Linked DNA regions of Homo sapiens: all the other regions are linked to region 1. The links come from fine-mapping of genetic effects on gene expression. A gene starts in region 1. Each other region holds a variant in brackets. All regions are shown on one strand. Distances are from middle to middle.

What was found.
Region 2: its variant is fine-mapped to the expression of EEF2K in whole blood (TOPMed, PIP above 0.99).
Region 3: its variant is fine-mapped to the expression of EEF2K in whole blood (TOPMed, PIP above 0.99).
Region 4: its variant is fine-mapped to the expression of EEF2K in whole blood (INTERVAL, PIP 0.93).

The regions. Positions count from the first base shown.
Region 1 is chr16:22,202,779-22,210,880 of GRCh38, forward strand. It overlaps EEF2K (eukaryotic elongation factor 2 kinase), which reads left to right and starts at 3,500. Exons shown (of 18, transcript NM_013302.5): 1 at 3,500-3,901. RefSeq lists silencers at 3,271-3,570, 3,731-4,000 and an enhancer at 7,162-7,662.
Region 2 is chr16:22,255,870-22,263,971 of GRCh38, forward strand. EEF2K (eukaryotic elongation factor 2 kinase) reads left to right here. Exons shown (of 18, transcript NM_013302.5): 7 at 879-1,028; 8 at 1,384-1,516; 9 at 1,774-1,901; 10 at 2,625-2,826; 11 at 4,593-4,660; 12 at 7,241-7,318. Among named protein-coding and RNA genes, the nearest start is that of TRL-AAG2-4, 37 kb to the right of the region's middle. The variant T/G (reference allele first, on the strand shown) is at 5,032.
Region 3 is chr16:22,421,967-22,430,068 of GRCh38, forward strand. It overlaps the pseudogene RRN3P3. Among named protein-coding and RNA genes, the nearest start is that of CDR2-DT, 51 kb to the left of the region's middle. The variant C/T (reference allele first, on the strand shown) is at 5,083.
Region 4 is chr16:22,163,457-22,171,558 of GRCh38, forward strand. SDR42E2 (short chain dehydrogenase/reductase family 42E, member 2) reads left to right here. Exons shown (of 13, transcript NM_001394319.2): 2 at 2,091-2,181; 3 at 2,794-2,978; 4 at 3,448-3,543; 5 at 5,989-6,046; 6 at 7,377-7,495. The coding sequence starts at 2,127. Among named protein-coding and RNA genes, the nearest start is that of SDR42E2, 5.0 kb to the left of the region's middle. The variant C/T (reference allele first, on the strand shown) is at 4,024.

The DNA.
Region 1 (8,102 bases):
GCTGGAGTGCAGTGGTGTGACCTCGGCTCACTGCAACCTCTGCCTCCCAGGTTCAAGTGATTCTCCTGCCTCAGCCTCCCGAGTAGCTGGGATTTCAGGCACATGCCATCACACCTGGCTAATTTTTGTATTTTTAATAGAGACGGAGTTTCACCACGTTGTTGCCAGGAGTTCAAGACCAGCCTGGCCTCAAGTGATCCGCCCGCCTCGGCCTCTCAAAGTGCTGGGATTACAGGCATAAGCCACCGCCTGGCCTACTGCATTTTAATTATGCATTCATCAGTCATTTGGATTGTTTTCACCTTTTGCCTATTATGAATAATATTCCCATGAACATTTTGTATAAGTTTTTGTGTGGACATATGTTTTCATTTCTGCTAGGATTTGAATTGCTGGGTTATACGGTAACTTCATGTTTAATTTTTTTTAAGAATTGCCAAACTGCTTTCCATTCCTACCAGCAGTGTATGAGGGTTCTAGTTTCTCCACATCCTTGCCAACACTTGCTATTATCTGAGATTTTGATTATAGTCATGCTAGTGGGTAGTGGGTGTGTTTTGACTTGCTTTTTTTGGTCACCCACGCTGGAGTGCAGTGGTGCAATCATAGCTCACGGCAGCCTCCAACTCCTGGGCTCAAGCTATCCTCCCACCTCAGCCTGTCGAGTAGCTGGGACTACAGGCACACATCACCGAGCCTGGCTAATTTTTCTATTTTGTTTTTTTGTAGAGATGAGGGTCTTGTTATGTTGCCTTTGCTGATCTGGAGCTCTTGGGCTCACACCATCATCCCACCTTGGCCTCCCAAAGTGCTAGGATTACAGGCATGAGCCACCATGCCTGGCCTTGCATTTTCTTAGTGGCTAATGACGTTGAGCACCTTTTCATGTCCTTATTGGCCATTTGTATATCTTCTTTGGAGAAATGTCTATTCCAATCTTTGGCCCATGTTTAAATTGGAGTATTTATCTTTTATTATTGAGTTGTAACAATTCTTTATATATTCTAGCTGCAAATCCCTTATCAGATATGATTTGCAAATATTTTTTCCCCATTCTCTGATTGTCTTTTCACTTTCTTTTTTGTTTGTGGTTTGTTTTTGTTATTGTATTTTGAGAGAAGGTCTTACTCTGTCCCTCAGGCTAGAGTGTAGTGGCGGGATCTTGGCTCACTGCAAACTCTGCCTCCCAGGTCCAAGTGTTCTTCCCACCTCAGCCTCCTGAGTAGCTGGGACCATAGATGCAAGCCACCACATCTGGCTAATTTTTGTATTTTTTTATAAAGATGAGGTTTCGCTATGTTGCCCAGGCTGGTCTCAAATTCCTGAGCTCCAGCAATCTGCCTGCCTCCCAAAGTATTGTGATCACAGGCATGAGCCACTGAGCCTGGCCTTTTTCATTTATTTATTTAATTTTTACAGACAGGGTCTCACTCTGTTGCCCAGGCTGAAGTGCACTGCATGATCATAGCTCACTGCAGTTTCAAACTGCTGGGCCCAAGGGATCCTCCTGCCTCAGCCTCCTGAGTATCTGAGACTACAGGCACACACCACCATACCTGGGTTTTTTTTTTTTTTAATGTTTTATTTTAGAGACAGGGGTCTTGCTATGTTGCCCAGGATGGTTTTGAACTCCTGGCCCCATTGATCCTCCTGCCTTGGCCTCCCAAAGCTCTGACATTACATGTGTGAGCCACCTTGCCCGGCCTTGAGTAATTTTATTTTACCGCAGTAGACATCTCCTTGAAGGCAAATGTTTCCCCCAATTCCTAGCACCATATTTGGCACACAATAGGAGCTTAATAAAATTTGCCATAAGAATTAATGCTCAGAAACTCTACTATTACATCCTATCTGCTCAACTCCCTGGAAAAGAGACATTCTCTTTTTATGGTTACTATAAAAGGCCCAGATTAGTATTTCACTGGCCTAACTTGGATCACATGCTCATCCCTGAACCAATCAATGAGGCTGAAGGGATGAAATATGCTAATTGGCCAGGTCTGGTCATGTGTCCATTTTTGGAGCCAGGGGAGTGGGGAGGGCTATTTTCCTGAACTGAAATAGGGTGAACTGGTTCCCTGAAGACTAACCAAGACGCTAATGCAAAGAAGGACACTCCTGCTGGGCAGACAAAAATGACAGAGGCTCAGAGAAGTAAAATAACTTGCCCAAGGGCCATAGAGCTTTAAGCAGTAGCGTCTTTTTTTTTTTTCCAATCTTGCTTTGGGCTTGGACAGACTAGTTCAGCATCTTTGATCTTCCCTTCCTGCCTGACGGCCCCAGGGTCAGAATTCCAGGTGCAATTTTGTCTTGCCAAAAGCTGGAGTTTACTCTCTTTGGGGTTTATAAATAAGGAAAAAAGTTCTTTGGAGAGCCTGAACTTTGAAATCAGAGAAGTCTGGATTTACTGCTGGCTCTGCCTTTTCTAGCTGCCTCACCTGGGGCATGTCATTATCTCTATAAGCCTCAGTTTTGTTCTTTTTTCTTTTTTATTTTTTTGTTTTTGTTTTTTTGCGACGGAGTCTCATTCCTTCACCCAGGCTGGAGTGTAGTGGCGCGATCTCGGCTCACTGCAACCTCTGCCTCCAGGGTTCAAGCGATTCTCGTGCCTCAGCCTCCAGAGTAGCTGGGACTACAGGCGCGCCCGGCTGCTTTTTTGTATTTTTACTAAAGACAGGGTTTTACCGTTTTGGCCAGGCTGGTCTCGAACTCCTGACCTCAGGTGATCTGCCGGCCTCGGCCTCCCAAAGTGCTGGGAAGATGGAATGAGAGAAATCCCTCAAAACATGTCATTGTTACTACTTTTCTATCTAGAATGTGTGAAATTTCTAAAATTTCACTAACAAAGTATCTGGAAGGACCTAATATTAAAGTGTTCACAGTAGCTATTAGTTTTAATTCGTTTTCTTTTTTATACCTTAGCCACTCTACCACTCATGCCACAGGTATTTATTAAGCATCTACTGTGTGCCACCCAGGCCCTGTGTCAAGAGTTAGGAATAACTAAAGGAGATACTAATTTTAAAACTACACAAATAATTGCAATCGTCATACGTGCCTGTTTTTACAAAGCAGAAATCAGGAAAAACAAAGTATTTCCGATAAAAAATATTTTAAGGTTATGGATAGAGATACATACAAACAAGCGATGGGCTTGGATCACTAATGATTTTGGAAAGGACAGGAATACAGGAACTAAGCGAGAAGCAGGCGAGAATGGCGAGGCGCGGCGGGAGAGGACGGAAGTTGGTCACTCCCTCGAATTGCCCCCTCGCTGCCGGATGCTAGGCCAGCCTTGAGCAGGAGAACCGGACACTGTGTACTCAGCAGGGGGAGCCAAGACTTAGCGCTAACCATTGCACCTGGGGCTGGGAGCCAGCGCCGGAGCCAGGAGGCCCGCTAGGCGGCTGCAGGCGCTGTGATGGCCACCTGGGGGCGGCCACGTGAGCGCCACGCCGTGCGCCCGCCAGGCCAGCCCCGCCCCTGCCCGCCCGCTTCTGCTCAACCTAGACCAGCCCCAGCTTCAGCCTCAGCTCCCCTCCTTCCTGGATCGAGCGCCCGCACTCCCGGCCCTGCAGCCACCCGAGTCCCGCTCGCTGTCGCCTGCACGCGAGTCCCCCCTGGCACGCGCTCCCACATCCCGGGATCGTCCCAACGGCCCCTGCGCCCTTCCTGGGATCACTCCGACTGCCCCGCGCGCCCTGGGATCGGTCCATCTACCCCGCGTGGCCCCAGCTGCTTGCCCGGAGCGCCAGCTAGCGCTCCCCGCTCTCCGCTCCCCGGCACTCTCGGGGGGCCCGCCCGCCCTGCACCCTGGAGCTCCGGGCCGCGAGCCTCTGCCAACTCCTCTGGACCCTCGCGGCCGTGGGCAGCGGCTGCCGCGCCTGTCTGCCCGAGGGAGGTAGGTGTGGACCGCGGCCGGCAAGGCTGTGGGGGGCTGGGAGCCCGCGCTGCAGGCCTGTGCGCCCGGGTGCAGCTGGCGTCTGGAGCGTGCTGGGTCTGGGCTTGGGAATGGGGCCGGAGAAGGCATGGAAGGAGAGTGTGGGGGCGCTTCTCCTCTGGTTGTTAAACTCTCTGGGGCTAAGTGCTTGCTTTGGAGAAATGGGGAAGTTGTGCGGATTAAAGGCGATGTGGATATGGAAAGCAATTGGCAAGCAATGGGCGGTGATCTGGCTGCAAGTGACAGAGAGTTTGGGGGCCTCCCCCCTCGGGGCCCCTAGAGTGTGGGCGCATCGCTGCCTTCCTGTCCCCTGCAGGGCTCAGAGCCGCATCCCCCACCTTTCCCCTGAACTAGAGGCCTGCGTCAGCCCGAATTCCCGGAACCTCCAGGACTGTATAGACGCGCCCTTGCTGCATTGTTGGCTGCGGGAGTTTGTTGGCAGGCGCTGCTGACATGTGTGCCAAGGGGCTGGGCATTAATAAGCCGGTGGCCGCGCGGGGGTGGGGGCCTCCCGGGTAAGCCCCGGCCTAGATCCTTTTGCGCGCGCCTGGGGGATTTCGGGGAACCAGCCCAGCTGCGCCCTGAGTGTGACAGATGGGCCGCATGGGGAAGTGAGATCTGCCCAGGGGGACGGTCCCAGGGAGCCCGACCTCTGGGACCTCGGTGGTGGGTGCTTCTTCAGCCAGGAAAGCAGGAAACACTAGGGCTGGAGTCCTGGGTTGGAATTCTAGCTCATTTATGCTCTCTGGCCCTCGGTTTTCTCATCGGTAAAATGGGTACAGTATTAGTATCTACCACTTAGTATCCTTGGAAAGAGTAGATGAGTATGTATATGTCAGGTGCTTGGAACAGTGCCTGGCACACAGTGTCATAGTCTATGGCCCCGGGAGACATCTGATGGCCAAGAGCCCTGTGGTTGAGGGCCCTGGACAGGCTGTGAAGTCACAGCGAATTGAGTCACGTAGTCTATCCTAATGTTTTTAGCGAGGAGGAAACCGAGGGTCAGAGTGATCCCCAGGCCCACAGAAGCTCCCTAAGAGGAAGCCAGTCACATAAACAGATTCTAAAAAGCGAGATGGAGTAAATGGGAATACAGAGCAAGCAGGTGGGAGCTGAGAATGCCCACTGTGTGTGTAAAGGGGAGAGGGTTATGGGGGAAGGCTTCCTGTAGCAAGTGCTGTTTAAGCTGAGCTGGGGAAGAGGCAGGTGGAAGGAGGTAGAGTTCAGAGATGGCGTATGCAGGTGTCTTCCTTCTGTGTGGCCTCCACAGCACCCGATGTTCATTCCTTTGTTCAGCTATTAATTCAACAACTACAGTAAAACCTCTCAAGGACATGAATTTCAGTGTAACATGGCTGGGATTGGCGTCCGCCCTCCTCTCAGCCCCCATTCTCAAAGAAGGGGGTGGGGTCCGAAGTTCTTATCCTCTGCAGGGAATGGGGAGGCCAGAAGACAGAACTGAAGTGGTCACAGTTTACACATAATCATCGGTGTACATTCCAAGAGCTACCGGTGTTTTGGGCCAGGGGCGTGGTGGCTCAGGCCTTTAATCTCAGTACTTTGGGAGACTGAGGAAGGTGGATCACTTGAGGTCAGGAGTTTGAGACCAGCCTGGCCAACATAGGGAGCCCCCATCTCTACTAAAAATACAAAAATTAGCTGGGCATGTTGGCATGAGCCTGTAATCCCAGCTACTCGGGAGGCTGAGGCAGGAGAATCGAGAATCGTTTGAACCCAGGAGGTATAGTTTGCAGGGAGCTGAGATTGCACCACTGCACTCTAGACTGGGCAACAAAGCGAGACTCTGTCTCAAAAAATAAAAAAGATCCACCAATTTGTTTTTCTTGTGCTTTTTGTAACTGTACAGTACTTTTTGGCTGATTACGGATATATCACTGGCTGGGTGTGGTAGCTCACACCTGTAATCCCAGCCACTTTGGGGGTGCTGAGGCGGGAGGATTGCTTGACCCCAGGAGTTCAAGACCAGCCTGGCTGACGGGGTGAAACCCGGTCTCTATTTAAAAAAAAAAAAATCTCTGATTTGCTTTTAAAACATTTTACTGTATTATGTGGCAGAGAAAGCTATGGGTCACCAGTACCCATGTTCTCGTCCTCCTGGGGTGCTCCCTGGATGAATTTTCCTAGGCTTCCTTACCATTCGGTAGGGCCACACGGCTGAGTTTTGGCTGATGAAATGTGAGTGTGTCCATTTCAAGCCTCGACCCTAAAAACCTCTCACTCTTTCCTTATTTGTTGGACAAGTCAAGGCGACTTTGAAGGCCTAGAGGAGGGCAGAGCCACAAGCCAGAGGGAGTGTTTGTTGTTTTTGAGATGGAGTCTTGCTCTGTTGCCCAGGCTGGAGTGCAGTAGTGTGATCTCAGCTCACTGCAACCTCTGCCTCCCAGATTCAAGTGATTTTCCTGCCTCAGCCTCTTGAGTATGAGCTGGGACTACAGGCACATGCCACCGTGCCCAGCTAATTTTTGTATTTTTAGTAGAGATGGGATTTCACTGTGTTGGCCAGGCTGGTCTCAAACTCCTGACCTCAAGTGATCCACCCGCCTCCCAAAGTGCTGGGATTACAGGCATGAGCCACCATGCCCACCCGGGAAGGATGTCTTTAGGGTTGTTATCTTGCTGTGGGGAGAGTCCCCAAAGCAGTCTTGTCCAGTTTTTGGCAGGGTTGTCGTCTGGTTGCCGGGACTCTGGGAGCTGTGTGAAGAAAGCCAAGGGTGAACAGCAGAAGCTTGGACTTGTTCAAGCTCGTTCTCCGGGATTCACTATTTCTGGTCCAGTTCTTACACCTGAAGCAGAACAACTGAATGATCAGGGCTATAGACAAAGTAATAGCGGCAGGTTGAACTAATTTAAAAGAATCAGTGTTTTTTGTTGAGGGAGATTGGTTCTGCTGACCTGAAAGCTGCAGGTTATTACCCTGATGAACTGAGAAGGCTCCTAGAAGGTGGTTAGAGCGATGACCTTGTCTCCACCTGGGATGAAAGCGGCTTGGGCCTTAAAGTGTTGCTGGATCAAATTCTTGCAGCCAAGGCTGATGAGCACAAGCAAGGAGGCTTCTTTTTTGTTGTTGTTTTGAGACAGGGTCTTGCTCTGTCACCCAGGCTGCGGTGCAGTGGCACAGTCACAGCTCACTGCAGCCTGGAACTCCTCGGCTCAAGTGATCCTCCTGCCTCAGCCTCCCAAGTAGCTGGGACTACAGACATGAGCTACCACCATGGCTGGCTAACTTTTAATTTTAGTGTAGAGATGGGGTCTCACTCTGTTGCCCAGGCTGGGCTTGAACTCTGGGCTCAAGCGATTCTTCTGTCTGGGCCTCCCAAAGTGTTAGGATCACAGGCATGAGCCGTGCCCAACCATATAAGAAGGCTTCAGACAAAGGAAGGAGTGAGTCACTAACACGCTGATGATAAAGCAGAAAATAACAGTGCTCCCCACAACCCCCAAAGTCCCAGGGCTGTGGGACTCCTAGAGAAGCGTCTCAAATGGCTCCAGAGTCAGAAGGTGGATGGCGTTCTGTTCTCCAGCTGTGAAGCTTTCGAGCTCTAGCAAGGACTAGCAAGCCAGAGGAAGCACCCGGAAGTAGGTGGCTAAACTGCGGAAAATTGCCCTAGGCCAGCGTTTCTCTAACTTCAGTGCACATCAGCATCCCCAGCAGGACTTGCTTACACTTTGATTGCTGGACCCATCCCCAGAGTTTAATTTAGTAGGTCTGTAGTGAGGCTTGAGAATTTGCATTACCAGCAAGTTGCCAGGTGAGGCTGCTGCAGTGGCTGCTGCGGCAGCTGGTCCCATACTTTTAGAAGCGCTGGTTAAGGAAGTGATGACTGCATTGAAAGCTCTGGATTCAGCCCGCACCAGCTTCAAACCCAACTCTAGTCATGTGATTTGGGATAAGTCACATAACCTCTCTGTTCCTTAGTTTTCTCATCTGTAGAATGAAGCTAAGAGCGACTAACTCCTGGGGTTCAGGGGAGGCTTCATGAAGGAGGTGATATCTAAGCTGAGACCTGAGGGATGAGCAGTCAAGTTGGCCAGGGGATGAGTAGGGAGGACAGGCTGGGGTGTGTACCAGACAGAGGGCATAGCATGTTCAGAGCCCGAGGAGGAAGGAGTGCCTGCCTTCTAGGGAGCTGGGAGGAGTTAT
Region 2 (8,102 bases), 53 kb after region 1:
ACTGCACTCCAGCCTGGGCGACAGAGTGAGACCCTGTCTCTAAAATAAATTTTTTTTTTTTTAAGACGGAGTCTCACTCTGTCATCCAGGCTGGAGTGCAGTGACATGATCTTGGCTCACTGCAACCTCTGCCTCCTGGGTTAAAGTGATACTCCTGCCTCGACACCCTGAGTAGCTGGGATTTTTGGTACGCACAAGCACGCCCAGCTAATTTTTGTATTTTTATTTTATTAATTTTTTTTTTGAGACGGAGTTTTGCTCTTGTTGCTCAGGGCTGGAGTGCAGTGGTGCAATCTTGGCTCACTGCAACCTCTGCCTCCCAGGTTCAAGTGATTCTCCTGCCTCAGCCTCCAGAGTAGCTGGGATTACAGGCATGTGCCACCATGCCTGGCTAATTTTGTATTTTTGGTAGAGACAGGGTTTCACCATGTTGGCCACGGTTGGTCTCCAACTCCTGGCCTCAGGTGATCCACACACCTTGGCCTCCCAAAGGGCTGGGATTACAGGTGTGAGCCACCATGCCCAGCCTTAATTTTTGTATTTTTAGTAGAGGCAGGATTTCACCATGTTGGCCAGGCTGGTCTCGAACTCCTAACCTCAACTGATTCACCTGCCTCAGCCTCCCAAAGTGCTGGGATTACAGATGTAAGCCACCGTGCCCAGCCTAAAAATATATTTTTTTTAATTTTAAAAAAATTAAAGGAAAAGAGGAGATTAGATTCTGGGCATCATCAGGAGCTCCTACAATAGAGAGCTAGTAAGTCATGGAGCCAGGGTCTGAGCCCAGGCAGGCGAGTTCCTCTGAGCCCTCCCCTTGCCGCTTCTCAGAGGAGGTGCGCCTGGGCCCTCCCGCCTGAGCCCACTCCCCATCCCACCAGGTGGACATCATGCAGATGTGCATCATCGAGCTGAAGGACAGACCGGGCAAGCCCCTCTTCCACCTGGAGCACTACATCGAGGGCAAGTACATCAAGTACAACTCCAACTCTGGCTTTGTCCGCGATGACAACATCCGCCTGACGCCGCAGGTGAGGCCGAGCTCACCTCCACCCTCTGCCCACCACAGCCCTTGGGGTGAGATCCTGGCCAGGCTCAGCCCCTAAAGAGGAAGGTCCCTGTGGGCTTGGAGTCTCACCCCCAGAGAAGCCTCTTGGAGCATTCAGAAGGAGACCCGTCACCCCATGACAGCTTCTGTCACCTAAGGTGGCCACAGGACCTGCAGCCCAAGGTCCCTGCCCAACTGAAGAGGCCTTTTTCCTTTGTCTTTTCCTCTATATAACTCCTTGAAGAGAAAGCCCCTCAGCATGGGCAGAGGCGTGGCCAGTGCCTGCACAGACCTCAGCCTGTCTCTTGACATCTCGTTTTCCTTCCTGTCCCCTGTAGGCCTTCAGCCACTTCACTTTTGAGCGTTCCGGCCATCAGCTGATAGTGGTGGACATCCAGGGAGTTGGGGATCTCTACACTGACCCACAGATCCACACGGAGACGGGCACTGACTTTGGAGACGGCAACCTAGGTACGTGGGGAAAGCCAGCCTGTTTCTGCAGAAACCACGCTCCCTGCTAAAACCTCTGAGTTCTTCGTACAGCCAAGGAAACAGGCTGAGACACTGTACGCGCTTTTTCAAGATCATGGAGATGGGAGCCTGGATGTCTGATGCCTCCCAGCTTGGCACGTTTTATACCTGCCCTGGCCATATGTATGAGGCCCACCACTGCCTGTCCCCCGTCACAGAGCAAAGCAACACTCCAGACACCCCCGCTCTGTCCACAGGTGTCCGCGGGATGGCGCTCTTCTTCTACTCTCATGCCTGCAACCGGATTTGCGAGAGCATGGGCCTTGCTCCCTTTGACCTCTCGCCCCGGGAGAGGGATGCAGTGAATCAGAACACCAAGCTGCTGGTGGGTGCCCAGTGTGACCCTGCTTGGCCTGGCAGGCCCTTCTGCTACTTGCAAAGCAAGCCCTGCTCCCCTGTGTGGTGACAGCCAGGTCAAGCAGTGCTTAACTGATGAATACCAGGGCTGGAAGCATCTGTCCCATCCATGCCCCAGCCCGTCCCCTCCAGCTCAGTGCACAAAGCCCTCCTGAGCGTCCTTCCAATCGAGCAGCTGGTATCTGCTTAGGTTGGGCCCATTTTTTACCAGAGTGAGGGGAACAGGCACGTGGAGATAGTGAGAAGGCATGTGGTGTGTGTGTGTGTTTGTGTGATGTATTGACAAATGACTGAACTAGTCTTAGACCTGGCTCTCCAGGCACCTCACCAACATACCTCCCATCCTCCCATTGCTACTTGGACCAGGGACAAGAGAATGTTGCAAAGACCAGCTTGGGATGCTGGACATAGAGTGGAATGCTTTCTCCAGCTCTGGGCTGTGGAATGTGGTCAGTGCTTTAGGGGATACTGGCAGGTCCTCTGAGCCTCTGTTCCAGATGCCCTTTCTTGGAGGCCTTAGGTTTAATCCCTGACTGATTTTTTATTTTTTAAGACAATATATCAGCTCCTAAACAGGCATGTTTAGGAGCTGTGGATGAAGGGGTTTCAGGGTTAGAGGGAACAACAGGAAGAGCCCTTTAATTCCCAGAGGGTGTGTGCGTGACATGAGTATCCCTATTAATGTCCCTAGCAATCAGCCAAGACCATCTTGAGAGGAACAGAGGAAAAATGTGGGAGCCCCCAAGTAAGGACCCTCTCTGGGAGCCGGCCACCCCTGCTCCGTCCCCTTTCAGAGAACTCTGGAGACGAGAACATGAGCGACGTGACCTTCGACTCTCTCCCTTCTTCCCCATCTTCGGCCACACCACACAGCCAGAAGCTAGACCACCTCCGTGAGTGACGGTTCGGTCCCTAGTCACTGTGATTGGAGGGGACAGGTGGAGCAGAGCTAAACCAGCTTTCATTTATGTTAGAAAAATCAGACATGCTAATCGAAAAGGTTCATGGCCCCAGTGGTTTTATAGGTGAGTTTCATTGAGTGAACTTTCAAAACAGATCATCCAAATGCTATAAAAACAACCCCTATTGTAGGAAACAAAGTAACTTTTATCAGTGTGTTTTATGAAACCAGCAAAACCTATATAATAAATTTGACAAACTAAAAAAGAAAATTATATCCCAACCTTATTTAAAATTTGTATTTGTGTATAGAGAACAAAAAAAAAATCTAAATAGATATTAACAAATAAAAATAGTACTATGTTAAAAGGTTCACCTGTCACAGTTAAATAGGGATTTCACAGGAATCTGAGGGTTGTTCAATGTTAGAAAAGCTATGAATGTGATATTAATGGGTCAAAGGAGAAAAACAGAATCATTATTTCTGACACTGAAAGAGTGGAGTTTGCTGATGATTCAGATGAGAGTCTGTAGGAAAGGATAGAGGCAAGACTGACCCCAGGGTATTGGCCTAAAGAGCTGGAGGTCATGTATTCAGGGAAAGTGTGAGCGGGAGCAGGCTCAGAGCAGGAGAGCAAGATTTTATTGTTTAGTTTTTTAATTTTTCTCATTTTGATACCTTTGAAAGAGAGAAAGATTTTAGTGTCAAACATTAAAGAAGCCCTTTAGATGTTTCCACTGGAAGGTCTTTGGAATAGTCTGGAACAGGAGTCAACAGACTTTTTTAAAAGGTCAGAGAGTAAATATTTTAAGCTTTGCAGGTCATTCAGTCTCTGCATTTGGAGCATGAAAGCTACCATAGAAAATATTAAGTGAGTGGATGTGGCTGTGTTCCAATAAAACTCTATGGATGGTGAAATTTAATTTTTGTCATCCATTTAAAAATGTAAACACTGTTCTTACAAACTATAAAAACAGACAGATAGATTTGGCTGTAGAGGGCAGGAGACAGAGATAGGGAACCACCAGGAGATGGTTGGTGTTTTTTTTTTGTTTGTTTTGTTTTGAGACGGAATCTCTCTCTCTGTCACCCCGGCTGGAATGCGGTGGCGTGATCTTGGCTCATTGCAATCTCTACCTCCTGGGTTCAAGCGATTCTCCTGCCTCAGCCTCCCAAGTAGCTGGGATTACAGGTGCATGCCACCATACCCAGCTAATTTTTGTATTTTTAATAGAGATGGGGTTTCACTATGTTGGCCAGATTGGTCTTGAACTCCTGACCTCAGGTGATCCACCTGCCTCGGCCTCCCATAGTTCTGGGATTACAGGCATAAGACACCGTGCCCAGCTGAAGATGGTTTTGAAGCTATCTGAGGCCCACTTCTTGAGCCCCAAATGTATAAACGTCTGTTCTTCCTTCACAACTGCATTTTATTGAGGACCAAGTGGTGGCCAGGCACATATGCTAATAAACACATTACAAGGATAATTGCATTGTGACAACCCTGAGGACACACATAGGTGACACCACTTGGCCAGAATCATGTAGCTGGCAAACAGCAGACTTAGAATAAGTTCTCAAGGAAGAACTTTAGCCTCCAGGTGCTGATAACATTCTTCTCCTTTTTTGTGCCTTTCTTTAAAGCTTAAAAAAAAAAAAAGGCTTGGTGGCAGGTATGGACCGCCCTAGGCCGTGGGTTGGTCTTATGCATGTTCCAGTAGTGGAACCAGGACATGATGTCTGTTTCTCCCTGCCCAGATTGGCCAGTGTTCAGTGACCTCGATAACATGGCATCCAGAGACCATGATCATCTAGACAACCACCGGGTGAGTGTGAAGGGAGGGAGGCTGCAGGCTTCAGACCCCAGCAGGGGTAGGAGTGGATTCACTCCCAGAGTGAATCTTCAGCTTCGGAGGTGGGCAGCCTAGCCCAGGCACTGCCAGGAGGGCACAGAATGGGGGAATTAGGGAGGATGCAGATGAATGTCAGCCTCCAGTCCAAGGCTGAGCTTTCCTCTGAGAAAAGGTGGGTCCCTTGCAGTTCCCAGAGATGGTTAGGGAAGAGGGACTCCCAGTCAGCAACAATGCGATCTTGTAGTAAATGCCAGTCTCAGCTCCAGGTTTGGTTTGACCCCACATGTGTTGGTTGTCCTATAGAGCCCTAATACTGGGTCTTAGATGTGTAACACATAGCACAG[T/G]AAGCCATGTGTTCTAGCTCTTCACACCTAGCTCTCCAGTTAGATAAACAGAACATTTCCTGAAGCTTTGGGTTGACTTGGTGGTAAGAAACTGAAGGCATCTTATCTGCATTCTCACAAATGTATATTATGGCAAATTATAATACTCTCTATGCTTGTGTGTGTGTTTGAAATATTTCTTAGTAAAATTGGCCAGGCATGGTAGCTCATGCCTATAATCCCAGCACTTTGGGAGACCAAGGTGGGCAGATCACTTGAGCCCAAGAATTTGAAACTAGCCTGGGCAATATGACAAGACCCCCATCTCTACAAAAAAATACAAAAGTTAGCCAGGCATGGTGGCACATACCTGTAGTCCCAGCTACTCAGGAGGCTGAGGTAGGAGGATCTCTTGAGCCTGGGAGGCAGAGGCTGCAGTAAGCCATCATCACACCACTGCACTCCAGCCTGGGTGACAGCGAGATCTTGTCTCAAAAAAAAAGAAAAAACAAATACCTTTTAGTAGAGGCTGGGCGCAGTGGCTCACGCCTGTAATCCCAGCACTTTGGCAGGCCAAGGGGGGCAGATCACTTGAGGTCAGGAATTTGAAGACCAGCCTGACCAACATGCCAAAACCCCATGTCTACTAAAAATACAAAAATTAGCCGAGTATGGTGGCAGTTTCCTGTAATCCCAGCTACTCAGGAGGCTGAGGCACGAGAATTTCTTGAACCCAGGAGGCGGAGGTTGCAGTGAGCAGAGGTCGCACCACTGCACTCCAACCTGGGCGACAGAGCGAGACTCAGTCTCAAAAAAAAAAAAAAAGAAATACTTCTTAGTAGAGGCGGGGTGTGGTGGCTCACACCTGTAATCCCAGCACTATGGGAGGCTGAGGCAGGCAGACCACTTGAGGCCAGGAGTTTAAGACCAGTCTGGCCAACATGATGAAACCTCATCCCTACAAAAAATATAAAAATTAGCCAGGCATGGTGGCATGTGCCTGTAATTCCAGCTACTTAGGAGGCTGAGGCAAGAGAATTGCTTGAACCTGGGAGGTGGAGGTTGCAGTGAGCTGAGATCACGCCACTGCACTACAGCCTGGGTGACAACGTGAGACCCTGCCACACACACACACACACACACACACACACACACACAGAAAAGATACTTCTTAGAAGAATAAAGAAGGAAATAAAACTATTCCGTTACTAATTGTGCAGGTGACATGCAGAGAGAGCTATAATTCAATGTTGGTAGGTACATGGCTGAAGTTTTAGAGATTCTAAATTATACCAGATTCGCTTTCAGAACAGAACTCAGACCTGGGAGAATAAAAAATATGCCCAACTAGGCCAGGCACGGTGGCTCACGCCTGTAATCCCAACACTTTGGGAGTCCAAGGCAGGCGGATCACAAGTTCAGGAGTTTGAGACCAGCCTGGCCAATATGGTGAAACCTCGTCTCTACTAAAAATACAAAAATTAGCCAGGCGTGGTGGCAGGCGCCTGTAGTCCCAGCTACTTGGGAGGTTAAGACAGGACAATCACTTCAGCTCAAGAGGTAGAGGTTGCAGTGAGCTGAGATCGTGCCACTGCACTCCAGCCAGTGTGACAGAGCGAGACTCCATCTCAAAAAAAAAATAAAAATGTGTGGTTTTGGTTGAGGGCTTATTTGTATTAAATATTGTTCCCAATGCTATATTTTTGTCCGTGGGTCATAGCCCTTAACCAGCCTTTGTTTTTCTGCCTGTGAAGTGGGTGAGTCACTCTCAGTAAAGCACTTCCTGTGATCCACACTCTCAGAATGTAACAGTGCATTTCACCCACACAGCCCTTCGATGTAGGGGCTATAATGAATCCCATAACTAAGGACACTGATGCTCAGAGAAGTTAAGCAACTGCCCAAGGTCTCAGCTGGCAAGAAATAAAGCCAGGATTTGAGCCCAGGTCATTTGGCTGTAGAGCCCAAGGTCCTTACTGTTACCTTATACTGCTCCCTCGTTGGCCAGGCAGGTCTTGAACTTGTGTCCTCAAGTGATCTGCCTGCCTCGGCCTCCCAAAGTGCTGGGATTACAGGCATGAGCCACCACACCCGGCAAGGGACAGCAGGAGCAGGGTGTTAGGTAATGGGACAGAGGGGAGAAAGCTAACAGTTGGGGTGTTGAGATGTCATAACCATTTCCAGGTGCTCAGGGGACCACCAGGACCCTAAGGCCGTCTTCTCTCCACAGGAGTCTGAGAATAGTGGGGACAGCGGATACCCCAGTGAGAAGCGGGGTGAGCTGGATGACCCTGAGCCCCGAGAACATGTAAGGAACCCCCAGGAAATGAGACCGGTGTCACCTGTTGCCTTGTTTATCCTCCAGGAAAATGAAAACTCCCCTTCCTGGAGGGGGAATATGAGTGGGTCCTGAGAAGATAACAAGTAAATTAATAAAGAGTATTTCAGGCCGGTCATGGTGGCTCACGCCTGTAATCCCAGCACTTTGGGAGGCCAAGGCGGGTGGATCACCTGACATCAGGAGTTCGAGACCAGCCTGGCCAACATGGTGAAACCCCGTCTCTACTAACAATACAAAAATTAGCCTGGCATGGTGGTGCATGCCTGTAATCCCAGCTACTGGGGAAGCTGAGGCAGGAGAATCACTTTAACCCAGAAGACAGAGGTTGCAGTGAGCCAAGATTGTGCCACTGCACTCCAGCCTGGGTGACACAGTGAACTTTGTCTCAAAATAAAATAAAATAAAGAGTATTTCAGATAAAGATAAATGCAAAGAAGATAAAACAGGATCATGTGGACCAGTAACGGGGCAAGTGTGGAGGCTTAGATATAAGGCTGATAATGGCTGACAAATCTTATGGTGAAGTGGGAGTCCTGGGCTGCTGAGCAGAGAGGATCCTGGGTAATAGCTGGACCCACTCATAGGCAGGATCCTGTGAGGCCCCAGGGAGGAGGGCCTTGGAGGTCAGTTTCCTTGGGTAGCCTCCCAGCAGCATCCTGGTGAGGGCAACCTCAGACAGTATCTGCCATTTAGAGGTCTTACCCTGTGCTGAAATGGAGCCTGCACATCAAGGCCAGTCTTGCCAGGACAC
Region 3 (8,102 bases), 220 kb after region 1:
ACTGATATTTTTACTTGCAGTGTAACTTTCTGGCCCCTTCCCATAATCACATGTATTTGGTAAGCTTTTGTTTTCAAAATAAGCCAATAACATTTAATAAGAAACAACAGTATATTTGTCTGTTTTCATGCTGCTGATAAAGCCATACCCGAGACTGGGTAATTTACAAAGAAAAAGAAGTTGAATGGACTCACAGTTCCATGTGGCTGGGGAGGCCTCCCAATCATGGCAGAAGGCGAAAGGCAGGTCTTGCATGGTGGCAGCCAAGAGAGAGAATGAGAACCAAGCAAAAGGGGTTACTCAGGAGCCTGTGGCAGGAGAATGGCGTGAACCCGGGAGGTGGAGCTTGCAGTGAGCGGAGATCGCGCCACTGCACTCCAGCCTGGGTGACAGAGCAAGACTCCGTCTCAAAAAAAAAAAAAACCCATCAGATTGGCTGGGTGCAGTGGCTCACGCCTATAATCCCAGCACTTTGGGAGGCTGAGGTGGGTGGATAGCTTGAGGTTGGGAGCTCGAGACCAGCCTGGCCCACATGGTGAAACCCCATTTTTACACTACACTACATTTTTAGTGTAGATCCCAAATATTTAGCGTAAGTATGGTTTGTGTAATATTTAGGATGCTCATATTTTAAAACGGTGATACTGGAATGCTTCTCCCCACCGTCATGAAGCTGGCACTTTCTTACCAGCTGGGACTTGGGTCCAACGGGGTCTTTTCTGACCATGTTGTGTAACGCTCACAACCTCCCTCAGTGGAGTCATCGCTGGCTTATCACCTGGTTTCATTTTCATCCAGCACTTATCGCTATCCAAAACCATCTTCTTTCTTATGTACATATTTGTTTATTTTTCTGTAAACTTGCATAGAGAAGTACCTATTTATTAATTAATGTTTACTAATTTTCTTATTCCACCAGAAGGCAAGCTCCATGGGAGCAGGGGTTTCCCTTTCTTGATTGATCCTTTCTCCCTACAAAAGACCACACAGCACACAGGGGTCACGGTGCACCTGGGAAGCATCTGGGAAGGTGGACGATTAGAAATGGGCTTTTGGGCTGGGCACGGTGGCTCACGCCTGTAATCCCAGCACTTTGGGAGGCCAAGGTGGGAGGATCACAAGGTCAGGAGATTGAGACCATCCTGGCTAACATGGTGAAACCCTGTCTTTACTAAAAATACAAAAAAAAAATTAGCCGTGCATGGTGGCAGGCGCCTGTAGTCCCAGCTACTCCGGAGGCTGAGGCAGGAGAATGGTGTGAACCCGGAAGGCGGAGCTTGCAATGAGCCAAGATCGCGCCACTGCACTCCAGCCTGGGCGACAGAGCAAGACTCTGTTTCAAAAAAAAAAGAAAAGAAAAGAAAAGAAAAAAGAAATGGGCTTTTGGATCCAAATGATAACAACAGTGACTCCACCGCCTGACATTTTGTCTAACATGATCCCACCCCTGGTCACAATTGATTGGACAGGGATGGGCACTCAAACCATGCTGGACCAATCAGAGCCCCTTCCTCAGTCCCGCTCCTAATTAGTGCAGGGCTGGGCCAATCAGAGTCACTGCTCTGGGAATTTAGAATCTGAAGTGAGCAAGAACAGGAACAGTGGCTCCCCAGTGGCTGAATCTCTAACAGGTAAACTTTGAAAGCTGTTTGGTACATTTTCATTTTTCAGTCTTGAGGACCAGAAAGCAGAGAAAACATCTGTAGAGAGCGAGGCGACACTGACTTCTACCTAACTTCCCCAAAAATATTCACACCCAGGCCTGAGGGAAGAAACAGGAGCTACATACAGAATGGAGATGGAAACACACATGTGTTCACACACGCACACACAACACACGTGCACACACATGTGCACAATGCACATGAGCACACATGCACATACGTATACACACATGCTCATGCAGTGCACACACGCATACCCGCACACGAACACACACGAACACATGCACACACGGGCACACACACATGAACACACATGCACAATGTATACACAGTGCATATGTGCACACATGCACATGAACACACACATGCACACACACGCACATGAACACACACACATGCACACACACGTGCACACACATGTAGTCGTTTTAGGAACTAGACTGCCAGTTTATGAATTTGCAATGATAAATCACTTTCCCGGGATATAAGCGTGATGGTCACATCCTTTCCTCTCAGTCCAGGGGTCGTCCTTGAACTGCACAGCCACAGTGCCAGTCCCAACAGTGCCAAGATTCCCCTCCAAGGAATTCACTCTTCCCGTCTCTCATCTTGAAGCTGCCGATTTGTGCCCCACTAGAGGAGCCAAGACGTCCCTAGAACCTCCTCCTCTCATGCGGACAGCCTGGCAGGCACCCCCCAACTCCGGGCTCTCAGGCCTCGTTTGGATTTATTTTGAAGGAAGCTATTGTTTACTAAATGCTTAATTCTCCCGGAATGGTGCCAAGCGCTTCATACAGCCCTGCCCAATGAGCTGGGCCCTCCCGCACCTTTAGGGAATGAGCTGAGCTATCTGCGGGGGTACTCGAGGTGGGACAGGCACAGTGTGGCAGCGCGTGGATCTGGCTGCTGTTTTCCTTTGTGACTGGCACCTCTCCTCTCCCCCTTCCCTCCTCCCCACCGCTTTGCTCCCCCAGCCTTTCTTCCTTGGCCTTCAAGGCCATACACACTCCCTGGAAAGAGCCCTTGCTGCCACCTCTGTTACTCATCGTCCTTGGCCCGTGCTTGCTCCAAGTGCTGGCACCCCCAGCTCCTAGGAAAACTGCTGGCAGTGTCCCCACCAACGGAAATTTCCTTGGCCTCTCTGTTTGTTTCGCTTTGTTTCTGGCCCTGCCACGGTGTGGCCCAGGCCTCGGGAGCCTGTCTGTGTGCAGTTCTCTGCACCTTGTCCGCTCCCTTCCCTTCGTCTTATGGGCACTGCCCCTCCTTCCATCCAGGGTTTGCTGTGTTTTCATCTCATTCTCTGTTTCTCTCTGAAAACCTTTCTCTAGCCCTACCTGTCCTTCATCTGAGGTTCTCATTCCCTCCATCCCCAGCAGCTCCAGATTCCCAATCTGGGTGAACAAAGAGGACAGAAAATCTGTGAAGGAGAGGACCGAGAACCTGGAAAAATCAGCTGCAGAGACGGGGAGGGGACCGGGAGCAAGTGAAGCTGAGTAGGAGAGAAATAAAAAGGAAACTGGGTTTTGGAGAAAATGACAAATAAAGTGAAACCAGATTGGCCCACGTGGATGGGAGCCAAGGGAGGGATGACCCAGCTCATTTCCATGGCCCGGGAGAGACACCGGATCCTTCTTTCGGTCTGTGGCAGGGAGGGCCTAGATCCTTTGAGCAGATGTGAAGCCGGTGGGGAAGCCAAAAGTGGGGTTGGGACAAGGTCAGAGGCTGACACTGGGAGACAGAGACAGCAGCAGTGGCCTTGGACCTGAGAGCAACCGAGTCAGGGAGGGGCCGAGGTCAGCTCGGGGTCCATGGCCAGGACGCACGTCCAGTGAGGAGGGCGCCCCATCCTCACTCTGGGAACAGCGTCCTCGGCTGTCCTGCGGGAGTGCTGCCTCCCACTCTCCAAGCACACCTTGCTCCAGGCGGGGTCACCCTCGGGCTGGCCAGATGAGCAGCCAAAGCCGGGCCCCTGAGAATCAGCCCTGGGATGGTGGCTGGAACTGCCGGGAAAGAGGTGACGTCGCTCCACTGGAGGCCAAGCCACAGCCTCGGGTGGCCACCATTGCCCCATCAGGGAACCCCCATGAGTGTCCCCTGGGGAAAGCAGAGCCTGGGGGAGCACTCAGAGCCCTGGCAGTCGACAACCCCTGCACCCGGTTGCAGCCCTGACTCTTTAGGATCGGAGCTGGCAAATCTCCCTCTTCTTTGCTTAAGCCAGTTTGAGGTGGGGTTCTGCCAGGTAAACCAAAAAGAAGTCTTAAGAAGCCTTACTGGAATTCCTCACTTGGAGAGCAGCAGTGAGATCCCAGGCTGCAGGGACAAGAGGGAGGAAGGCAGGGGGCAGTGACGGGTGGGAGATGGTGCATGCTGGCTCTGGAGCTGACTGTGCAAATCTCTTCCCAACTCCACTATTGGTGACTGCACCTTCAAAACTTGAACTCGGCCATGCAGGGGTAATTGCACCATGGAAAGTGGCGAACACCACACATCACCGCTCTTGTACCTCCACCCAGCCCCGGAAAGCCAGCTGCTAGGCCTGTACCAGCATTCCCCACCCATGGACTCAGGAGGGCCAGGCTTACCTGGGACCACTTCTGAAAGTTGCACCAGCCCCAGCTTCCCTGAGGACAAGGCTGAGTCACGAAGCATGGACGAGGCTGAGCTGCAGTCTGCACAGGTGGAGTTAAACAGGCCATAGCCAACTCGCCCCTCACCCAGGGTCTGCACAGACCTCACCTGCAGCCAAATTACATTTGAGCACACAGTAAAAGGATGGAAACTGATGATCCTCCTGCTCCCTCCCTTCCATTTCTTTGCTCTCAGTTTAGTCACTGTTTTTTGTTTGTTTGTTTGATTGTTTGTTTGTTTTTGAGACAATGTCTTCTTGCTCTGTCACCCAGGCTGGAGGGCAGTGGTGCAATCTCAGCTCACTGCAACCTCCGCCTCCTGGGTTCAAGCAATTCTCCTGCCTCAGCCTCCTGAGTAGCTGGGACTACAGGCACGCACCACCACACTTGGCTAATTTTTCTATTTTTAGTAGAGACGGGGTTTCACCATGTTGGCCAGGCTGGTCTGGAACTCCTGACCTCAGGTGATCCACCTGCCTCTGCCTCCCAAAGCACTGGGATTACAGGCATGAGCTACTGCACCTGGCCAATTTAGTCACTTATTTTATTTTATTTTATTTTATTTTTTTTGAAACTAAGTCTCACTTTGTTGCCCAGGCTGGAGTGCAGTGGCGTGATCTCGACTCACAACTTCCGCCTCCCAGGTTCAAGCAATTCTTCTGCCTCAGCCTCCCCAGTAGCTGGGATTACAGGTGCTTGCCACCACGCCCAGCTAATTTTTGTATTTTTACTTTTTTTTTTAGACCAGGTTTCACTCTTGTCACCCAGGCTGGAGTGCAATGGCACGATCT[C/T]GGCTCACCGCAACCTCCACCTACCAGGTTCAAGCGATTTTCCTGCCTCAGCCTTCCAAGTAGTTAGGATTACAGGCATGCACCACCACGCCTGGCTACTTTTGTATTTTTTGTAGAGATGGGGTTTCTCCATGTTGGTCAGGCTGGTCTCGAAATCCTGACCTCAGGTGATCTGCCCGCCTCAGCCTCCCAAAGTGCTGGGACTACAGGCGTGAGCCACTGCACCCGGCCAATTTTTGTATTTTTTAGTAGAGATGGGCCTTCACCATATTGGCCAGTCTGGTCTTGAACTCCTGACCTCAAGCAATCCACCTGCCTCGGCCTCCCAAAGTGTTGGGATTACAGGCATGAGCCACTGCACCTGGCCACTTTTATTTGCTTGTATCAGGACTCTTGGAAGCAAGTGATAGGAACTTAAATCAAACTGATTTTAAAAAGAGGCTTATTAGTACAGGGGTTGACTTGGCTTCAGGTACAGCTACATTCAGAGGCCCCGAAATTGGCTTGGGCCTTGATATCCCCCACCTTGGCTTTGCCCTCCTGTGTGGACACTTTCTCAGGAGGGCCCTCACCTGCTGCGGGGCACAGCTATGGAAATAATCTCTTTAAATACGTCCCAGAAAAAAACTCCTTGGCTCTCATTGGCTGGTCTTGAGTCACGTGCCCATGCCTGTACCAATTGCTGCAGCCAGTGACAGGGCTGTTCTGAGTGGCCATGCCCAGGTCCCCACCCACTCCTGTCTCTGGACCCCGTGAATGGGAGTCGGGGATGGGCTCCCAAGGAAAACAGGAATGTTGGACCCAGGACGCAGGAGGATGGAAGCCGAGCCAGCAACACAGCAGATACCCTTACAAAGCCACGGACTGGCGGGATCAGCGGCACCTGGGAGCCTGCTGGCATGAGATTCTTGGATCTGCCTTGCACCTGCCAAGTCAGAATGTCTAGAGGGAGCACAGGTTGTGTTGTGTGTATGTTATTGTTATTATTATTATTTTTTTTGAGAGACAGGATCTCACTGTGTTGCCCAGGCTGGAGTTAAGTGGCACAATCCCAGGTTACTGCAGCCTCAATCTCTTGGGCTTAAGCAAGCCTCCTGCCTCAGCCTCCCGAGTAGCTGGGACCACAGGCATGCACCACCACGTCCAGCTAACTTTTTTATTTTTATTTTTGTAGAGATGCATTCTCGTTACCCTCCCGCCTTGGCCTATCACAGTGCTGGGGTTACAGGTGTGAGCCGCCGGGCCGACAGGAGTCTGTGCTCCAACACACTCTCCAGGGGATGTTGGTGCACACTGGTGTGTGAGAACTGTTTGTCAGCCCCCCACTAAAATTAGCATTTTATTCACTGATGTGAATAATATCCTCGCCAGGACCAGGTGTAGTGGGGAAGGGGAGGTTCCAGGGAAAGTTGCGAGGCTGTTCCTGAGGAGGGTGTGCCACACAGACAGGCACGCAGGTTGAGATTCTTGACCAAAAGCAGCCTTTGACTAGTGATCCTGGGGGATAATTACCATCTGCAGTTGTCTTGTTTTCTAGCCTAAAACCTGAGCCTGGGTTCCCTTGGGGATACAAAAAACATCTAGATTCCAAGGCACACCTGCTGCCACGAGCTGAACAAAAAATAACAAGTGTGCCCTTAAAGCACTGCAGGGATGTTCCTGCTCCACCGCCAACAGGGCTGAGGCGTGGGCTTGTTCTTGCCCTGGGGGGTGAGGGACGGGCCTCCCGTGCAGACCTCAAGGCCCAGTGGACACAGCCTCTGCTGGGCTTGAGCCAGAGGCCCATCTGGGCCCTGGGCCGGCTGCCGGCTCTCCTGGGGACTGACTGTGACCTTGGCCTCACTCACCCAGAGTGCTGGTGCTTCCTCTCTGCATGGGGGTCAGCTCCTGGTGGCCTCCTGCTGGATTTTGTGGATGTTCGATGCAGATTATTTCTCTAAAGGGTGCCTGCTCCCCAGATTCCCTTCTTTGCAGAGCACAGAGTCCCACTGGGAGGCCTCTGTGGCCTCTGGCCAAGGAGTTCCCCAAGCCTCCTTTTTCCCCATCTGTAAAATGGGGACTGGTCTGTGTCTCCCACGACTGTTGAAAGGAAGACTGCAGTGGTGCAAGTGAAGCCCTTGGTGAGGAGAAGTGAGTTGGTGAAGGGCTAGAATCTGCAGTCGAACGGAAGCCGGCTCCTTGCACTGGGTCACTCACCCTTGGAAGTCGCCCCTTCTCTGAGCCTCCATTTCTTGCTACATAAAACGAGGGTCCCGCAATACTCTCTCTAGTGGCTTCTGTTTTGTGCCATGCTGCTATTCATAGATGGCAGTGCTTTTTTTTGTTTGTTTGTTTTCCATGATGGAGTCTCGCTCTGTCACCCAAGCTGGAGTGCAGTGGCTCAATCTCTGCTCACTGCAAACTCCACCTCCCAAGTTCAAGCGATTCTCCTGCCTCAGACCCCCGAGGAACTGGAACCACAGGTGTGGGCCACCAACCCAGCTAATTTTTGTATTTTTAGTAGAGACGGGATTTCACCATGTTGGCCAGGCTGGTCTTGAACTTCTGACCTCAGGTGATCCACCCACCTTGGCTTCCCAAAGTGCTGGGATTATAAGCATGAGCCAGCTCATGCCAGGGTGGGCGAGCTGGCTTGAGGTGAGCCGAGATCACACCACCGCACTCCAGCCTGGGCGACAGAGCGAGACTCCGTCTCAAAAAGAAAAAAAAATCCACCTCCTCCAGCATCAATGTTTAAAAGTACCTACCTCTTCAGCACACAGGGATCAAAGGGGACGAAGGTGTCCAGTGGGTTTGTGCAGGTCTGCACTGAGTCTCCTCCAGTGGTACTCCTAATGACTGGCAGCATCTGGCGATTGTTCCTCTCGATGATGGTGTAGCAGAAGACGAGCTGGTACTTACTGTGGAACAAAAAAACAACACAGACAGAGGCATTAACATGCTGGAGTGACTCTGCGGATGTGAGCTGCATGTGACAACTGTACCTACCACAGAGAAATTGCTGAATATAACAAGTGCTG
Region 4 (8,102 bases), 39 kb before region 1:
GCACTTTGGGAGGCTGAGGGTGGCAGATCACTTGAGACCAGGAGTTTGAGACCAGCCTGGCCAAAATGGTGAAACCCCCGTCTCTACTAAAAATACAAAAATTAACCAGGTGTGGTGGCGCGTGCCTGTAGTCCCAGCTACTCGGGAGGCTGAGGGAGGAGAATTGCTTGAACAAGGCAGGCGGAGGTTGCAGTGAGCCAAGATCACACCACTGCACTCCAGCCTGAGCAACAGAGTGAGACTCCTTCTCTAAATAAATAAATAAAGCCATGAGTGTTCGTGCTTATACGGGGCAGGACTGTATTCCTCACCCAGACATTTGGTGAGCAGGGCAGTAACAGAGGAAATTAAAAATACAGCCCCTCTAGCTGCCAGAGTCCCTGCCCTGTGACCACCACCAGCAAAAAAACATGGGGCTCATCAGTCCAGTCACTCAACAAATACCCGTTCTTTCATGCAGCCAGTATATGCCATGCAGGGCAGAGATGCACCTATCTGTATATGTAGGGCCTGGCGCACAGAGGTCCCTAGCACATGGTTGCTGTTGTTACGGTTAATGATCACCTAGCCCTGGTCATCCAGCCTCATCCTCAGGTGGAGAGGGAGGTCGGGAGGGGGGTGGGGGGATGGACGATGGTGACAGTGACTGACAGCCTGGCTTGCCCTGAGTCTAGACTGAGGGCTGGGCACAGTGGCTAACGCCTGTAATCTCAACACTTTGGGAGGCCAAGGCAGGAGAATTGCTTGAGTTCCAGGAGTTCACTACTAGCCTGGGCAACAGAGTGAGACTCTGTCTCAAAAATTAAAAAAAGATCTAGGGAGCTGGATGCGGTGGCTCACACCTGTAATCCCAGCACTTTGGGAGGCTGAGGTGGGAGGATCACTTGAGGTCAGGAGTTCAAGACCAGCCTGGCCAACATGGTGAAACCCCATCTCTACTAAAAATGCAAAAATTCACCAGGCATGGTAGCATGCACCTGTATTCCCAGCTGCTTGTGGGGCTAAGATGGAAGGATCGCTTGAGCACAGAAGTTTGAAGCTGCAGTGAGCTATGATTGTGCCACTGCACTCCAGCCTGGGCGACAGAGAAAAGAAAGTAGTCTGAGGCTGCAAAGAACAGGATCCTCAGTGCTGTCCCCCTAGGCCCATAGACCAGACCCTAAAGCCTGCAGAGGGATTGGGCAGAACGTGTGGTACCAGCCACCCACACTACTGTCGGACCTTGGAGGACCAGAGGCGTCAGGCATCAGGGTGGAGACAGGCACAGCACTTGGAGTCATGTGCAAGTTTCCAGGGTGCAGAGTCCTTTTGGATCCATGTGGATTCTCCTCCTCCTCCTCTTTCTCTTCCTCCTCTTCCAGAAGGCTCTCCCAATCTCCCCAGTCAGAAAGCAGCCACCTCCCAGTCTGGTGAGGTTCCCGCTGGATGATTTGCCCTGTCTTCCTTTGGTACTCCATGGAAACTGGAATTTTAAGGAACTGGTAGATAAGTCAGGAATGCTTAATGTCAACCTCAGTTACACAGCGTGACTTTGGGCCTCAATTTTCTTAGCTCTAAAATCCAAGTCTTGGCTGCCTTGTCTCTGACTCTGTGCAGAGGACAGCAGCCACACTGGAGTTTTTTGTTTGTTTGTTTGTTTGTTTGTTTTTGAGACTGAGTCTCATTCTATTGCCCAGACTGGGGTGCAGTGGCACCATCTCAGCTCACTGCAACCTCCGCCTTCCAGGTTCAAGCAATTCTTGTGCTTCAGTCTCCTGAGTAGCTGGGATTACAGGTGTGCCCCACTACACCCGGCTAATTTTTGTATTTTCAGTAGAGACAGGATTTCACCATGTTGGCCATGCTGATCTCCAACTCCTGGCCTCAAGTGATCCGCCCACCTCAGCCTCCCAAACTGCTGGGATTACAGACGTGAACCACCACGCCGGGCCCACACTGGAGATTCTTGAGATTCTGAAAGGGGCAGGTTCCCTGGGAACTCAGAGAATTTCTAATTTCCACCTGGAGTTCCCCTCAGTCCTAGAGGTCTAATAATTTATGTGACTTGAAACGATTCTAGAGCATTCTTTCTTCTATTTTTTTTCCCACAGGTGGTCGGTTTCTGGGTCTGCATGGCTCAGTAGAGGATGAAGTCCAACCCCCCACGCTCCTCCCTAGAGGCCTGCAAAGCTGCAGGCCAGGGTGAGAAGAGCTGCCCTGTCTGCCAGGCCTGTGGAGAGGTCTCAGGTCCAAGGTCTGGCTCAGGGTCTGAGTCAAGGCCTGCACCAAAGCCTGGTGCCATTCCAGGGCCTGGACTGGGGCCCAAAGCTATTCCAGGACCTCAGGCGGGTTCTGGTACTGTTCCGAGGCCTGGTGCTATTTCAGGGACTGGACCAGGTCTAGGGCCTGGGCCAGGAGCTGGGTCTGTACCTGGGCCAGGAGCTGGGTCCGTACCTGGTCTAGGAGCTAGGTCCGTACCTGGGCCAGGAGCTGGGTCCGTACCTGGGCCAGGAGCTGGGTCCGTACCTGGGCCAGGAGCTGGGTCTGTACCTGGACCAGGAGCTGGGTCGGGACCTGGTCTAGGAGGTGGGTTGGGACCTGGTGTAGGAGCTGGGCCAGGAGCTGGGTCTGTACCTGGGCCGGGAGCTGGATCGGTACCTGGGCCGGGAGCTGGATCGGTACCTGGGCCGGGAGCTGGATCAGTACCTGGGGCAGGAGCTGGGTCTACACCTGAGCCAGAGCTAGGGCCTGGGCTCAGACAGGGGTCTGGGACTGGGCCCAGACCCAGTGAGTCAACAACAACCCCAACACCAGCGCCGCAGCAGAAGACTCAAGCCAAACCTACAAAGGCTGCCAGGCAGAAGGTTCTAGTGACTGGAGGAGGAGGCTACCTGGGCTTCAGCCTGGGATCCCACCTAGCCAAGAGCGGCACTTCCGTCATTCTGCTTGACCGCCGCAGACCCCAGTGGGAACTGTCCCCGGAAACCAAGTTCATCCAGGTACAAGGAACAAGGGTCTTAATAGACTGGGGCAGTGGTGATGGTCAGGGGACAGTGTTTGATGTGAAACCTGTGGTGTGGAGTTTAGGGGCACACTGTTTGAAGCCAGACTGTTTGAGCTATAGCTCTGGCTCTGGTGCTACCAGCTGGGTAGCTATGGTCACAGAAAGGGGACAATAGTAACCAACACCTACTTCACAGGGTCTCATTGGGAGTTGATGAGACAGTGCACATAAACCTAGCACAGCCCCTGTCACCTACAGAGCGTGATGAATGAGCACGGGATGTTGCTCACGGTGCCCTGTAGAATCATTTAGTGAATCCTGCCCCACCAGCCTTTCCTGATGCTACAGAGGCTTGGCCTGGGCTGGGTCAGGGGGCCAGTTCTGAGACCAGGCAAGGTGCAGAGGTGTTATCTCTTGCCTTGGACTTGAACCCCCTGCCCTCATCTCTTCTTCCTCTGGTGCAGGCTGATGTCCGAGATGAAGAAGCCCTGTACCGTGCCTTCGAAGGGGTGGACTGTGTCTTCCACGTGGCTTCCTATGGAATGTCCGGGGCTGAGAAGGTGGGCTCCTCACACACAACACCTGGAGTTAGACAGAGTGGGGTTCCAGTCCTGGCTCTGCCCTCACACCCATGCATTCCCTATCATGCTTCACCTATTATAGGAGGGACTTGGGCTACTCCCACCCTGCATCCTGCATCCATGACACCAAATACCAGTTCTGCCATTTTTTTTTTTTTTTTTTTTTTTTTTTTTTTTTTTTTTGAGACTGAGTCTCACTCTGTCACCCAGGCTGGAGTGCAGTGGCACAATCTCAGCTCACTGCAACTTCCATCTCCCAGGTTCAAGTGGTTCTTCTGCCTCAGCCTCCTGAGTAGCTGGGATTACAGGTGCCACCAACACGCCCAGCTAATTTTTGTATTTTTAGTAGAAACAGGGTTTCACCATGTTGGCCAGGCTGGTCTCAAGCTCCTGACCTCAGGTGATCTGCCCGCCTTGGCCTCCCAAAGTGCTGGGATTACAGGCAGGAGCCACCGCACC[C/T]GGCCCCATTTCTGCCATTTTATAACTGTGTTATCTAGGGCAAGTTTATTTAACCTCTTTGATCCTCTTTCATCATCTGGAAAGTGAGGATATTACTATTGGTAATATCACAACCTCTTCAGAGAGCAATGTAATAGTATCCACCAAAACATATGTATACCCGTTGCCTCAGAAATTACACTCATTTGTGTATTTGCAGCATTGTTTTTAATAACAAAACACCAGAAATAACCTATCAGTTGAGGACTATTTAAATAAATTGTGTTTTACAGTCAAATTCTATGCAGCCATTCAAAAGAAAGAGGTAACTCAAAGTGTGCAGATTAAAAAAATAGTTTCCAAGGTGCAAAGCAGTGTTTGGCATTCTCCTGTTTGTTTCCAAAAAAAGCTAAAGAAACTATTTATTTCTATAGTCACACATGCTTATATGCTGATATTAATAAGAATAGATTATCTCGAGAAACACCGGAAATTTAACAGTGGCTGCCTCTGGGGAGGGAAAAGGAAGATTTGGAATCAGGAGTAGGAGGGAACCTTCTTTTTCACTATACACCCATTTTACTGTTTGAATTCTTTTTAACCTTGATCGTGTTGCCTATGAAACAAAAACAGCCACAACAAGAATAAATATAGAGCCAGGTGTGGTGGCTCACACCTGTAATCCCAGCACTTTGGGAGGCCAAGGTGGGAGGATTGCTTGAGCCCAGGAGTTCGAGACCAGCCTGGGCAACATAGTGAGACCCCTATCTCTATTTAAAAATAATAAAAGTAAATTTTATTATTTTTATTTATTTATTTATTTTTGAGACGGAGTTTCGCTCAGTCACCAAGGCTGGTGTGCAGTGATATGATCTCAGCTCACTGCAGCCTCCACCTCCCAGGCTCAAGCGATTCTTCTGCCTCAGACTCCTGAGTAGCTAAGATTACAGTTGCACGCCACCACACCTGGCTAATTTTTGTATTTTTAGTAGAGATGGGGTTTTGCCATGTTGCTCAAGCTGGTCTCAAACTCCTGACCTGAAGTGATCCGCCCACCTCGGCCTCCCAAAGTGCTGGGATTACAGGCATGAGATACCACACCTGGCCAAAAATTTTTAAAAGAATAAATATAGGCTGGAAGCAGTGGCTCATGCCTGTACCCCCAACATTTGGAGAGGCCAAGGCAGGTGGATCACCTGAGGTCAGGAGTTTGAGACCATCCTGACCAACATGATGAAACCCCATCTCTACTAAATACAAAAACATTAGCCAGGCATGGTGGTGCATGCCTGTAATCCCAGCTACTTGGGAGGCTGAGGCAGGAGAATCATTCAAACCCGGGAGGCAGAGGTTGCAGTGAGCCAAGATTGTACCACTACACTCCACCTTGGACAACAAGAGCTAAACTCGGTCTCAAAAAAATAATAATAATAAATATAGCTTAAAAATAAGCATGGAGCTCATCTCCTGGTGTGATGAGAATTAAATGAGATCATGGATCAGGAAGTTCTTGCCCTGTTCCTGGCCCACAGGAGCCCTCACAGCGGCCTAATTTTTGTTTTTCACATCCCAGCTCCCTCGTGAGGGCCCAGCCCATATTACCATGTTCACCTTACAGATAGGGAAACTGAGGCTTTGAGAGTAGGAAAATGACCCAACAGGTTCTGAGCCCATCTTCTGTGCCAGGCACTGTACCAGGTCCTCTCAAGTGTCTTATTGAGTCCCGCCCACCACCCAGGGGAGGAGGTTGGCCCTCACTTTACAAATGAGGTTGCTGAGGGACAGATGTGTGGGCAGAACCTCCTCTGGCCACCCAGGAAGATGGTGGCAGAGCCAGGCACCCACACTCCAGGTGGGCCTTCGGGATCCCTGCCTCTGAACTGAACATCCTGCTGCCCTGTCCCACCTGACCCCAAGCTCAGCCTTCCAGCCTCAGCAAGAAGGCATGGGTAGCACCATGACTTTCTCACCTGTCTTGTCTTTTAGCTGCAGAAAGAGCAGATTGAGTCTATAAATGTTGGAGGCACCAAACTAGTGATTGATGGTAGGTGCTCAGAGCCGGGTATGACCTGCTGTGCCTCTCCCCCTCTCTCCCTTCTCCTGCTGCAGGCCTGGCTCCCAGGGTGTAGGGTCAAAGGGAGGGCCTGTGGGCAGCGCATCCTTCGTGCACTGCAGACCTCCCCAGGGCCCTGCATGGGTGTGTCAGTGTGGCCTTAGCATGTCTGGGAACATGGGGACCAGAGTTACCTCTCAGGGCTTAGGGACTGGAAAAAGAAAAGTTGCCGAAGCTGGCTGGGCGTGGTGGCTCATGCCTGTAATCCCAGCACTTTGGGAGACCAACAGGGGTGGATCACCTGAGGTCAAGAGTTCGAGACCAGCCTGGCCAAAATGGTGAAACCCCACCTCTACTAAAAATACAAAAAATTAGCCAGGCGTGGTGGCGGGTGCCTGCAGTCCCACCTACCTAGGAGGCTGAGGCAGGAGAATCGCTTGAATCTGAGAGGCAGAGGTTGCAGTGAGCCGAGATCGTGCCACTGCTCTACAGCCTGGGTAACAAGAGCAAAACTCCATCTCAAAATAAATAAATAAATAAAATTTAAAAATAAATAAATAAGTCTGGGCGAGGTGGCTCACGCCTGTAATCCCAGCACTTTGGGAGGCCGAGGCAGGTGGATCACCTGAGGTCGGGAGTTCGGGGCTAGACTGACCAACACGAAGAGATCCCATCTCTACTAAAACTACAAAATTAGCGGGGCGTGGTGGCGCATGCCTGTAATCCCAGCTACTCGGGAGGCTGAGGCAGGAGAATCGCTTGAACCTGGGAGGGGGAAGTTGTGGTGAGCCGAGATCGCGCCATTGCACTCCAGCCTGGGCAACAAGAGTGAAACTCCGTCTCAATAAATAAATAAATAAATAAATAAACAAACAGATAAATAAAAAGTTACTAAAGCACCAAAATCGCAGACCCATGTGTGGGCTGCCTGGGCATGTCCTGCCTTATCCCGTATGTCTTTGATTCTAGAGTGTCTTTTTCTAAGTCTCCATCCAGTGAGACCTTCTTCTGACCTGTCTCTGGCAAGGTAGCCCAGGGGTCCAAGCCACAATGAGAAAGAATAAGGAGCAGACCTGGCTCCCAGGGGCCCACAGAGCAGGAACTTGACCTGCACCCTAAGTTAAGGGCAGGAGACTCTTCCCTCCTGAACAGCTGTAGATTCTGGGAGGGTCCTGGGGGTCCAAGTTGTGTGTTGAAAACTTGGTAGAGATCTGCATGACACCTCCTCAGCCGACTCTATGCTCACTTGTGTCCCGTGTGTGTCTGTGTCTTTGCATGTGTGTGTGTGTTTATTTGTTGCTATGTGCACCTGCTGCTGCAGTCTGTGTTCGCCGGCGGGTTCCAAGGCTCATCTATACCAGCACTGTCAATGTTGCATTTGGAGGGAAGCCCATAGAGCAGGGCGATGAGGACTCTGTGCCATATTTCCCATTGGACGAGGTACCTGTCTTCCGGGAGAGGTGGGCAGGACCCGCGGGCCCGGGACCCACAGCTCAGAGGGGAGGGATGGGTGGAAGCAGGGTTGGTTTCACAACTCAGGATACGTCCTAGCAGGAAGGGGCTCCCAAAACTGGGTGGCGTCAGCACTCTCCTGTTTCAGTTGGTCACACCTGCAGGGGCATTGAAATCAGACAGGTCTGGCCTTAGCCTCAACCTGGCCGCATTCTACCCATGTGACCCTGACCCTGAGCAAATCACTTAAGCCCTTTGAGCCTGTTTTTTTTTCTTTTCTTTTCTTTTGTTTTTTTGAGACAGAGTCTCACCCTGTCCCCAGGCTGGAGTGCAGTGGCGTGATTTTGGCTCACTGCAACCTCTGCCTCCTGGGTTCAATAGATTCTCCTGCCTCAGCCTCCCAAGTAGCTGGGATTATAGGTGCATGCCACCACAACCAGCCAATTTTTGTATTTTTAGTAGAGACAGGGTTTACCATGTTGGCCAGGATGGTCTCCATCTCTTGACCTCGTGATCTGCCAGCCTCAGCCTCCCAAAGTGCTGGGATTACAGGCGTGTTGTTTGTTTGTTTTGTTTTGTTTTGAGACAAGGTCTT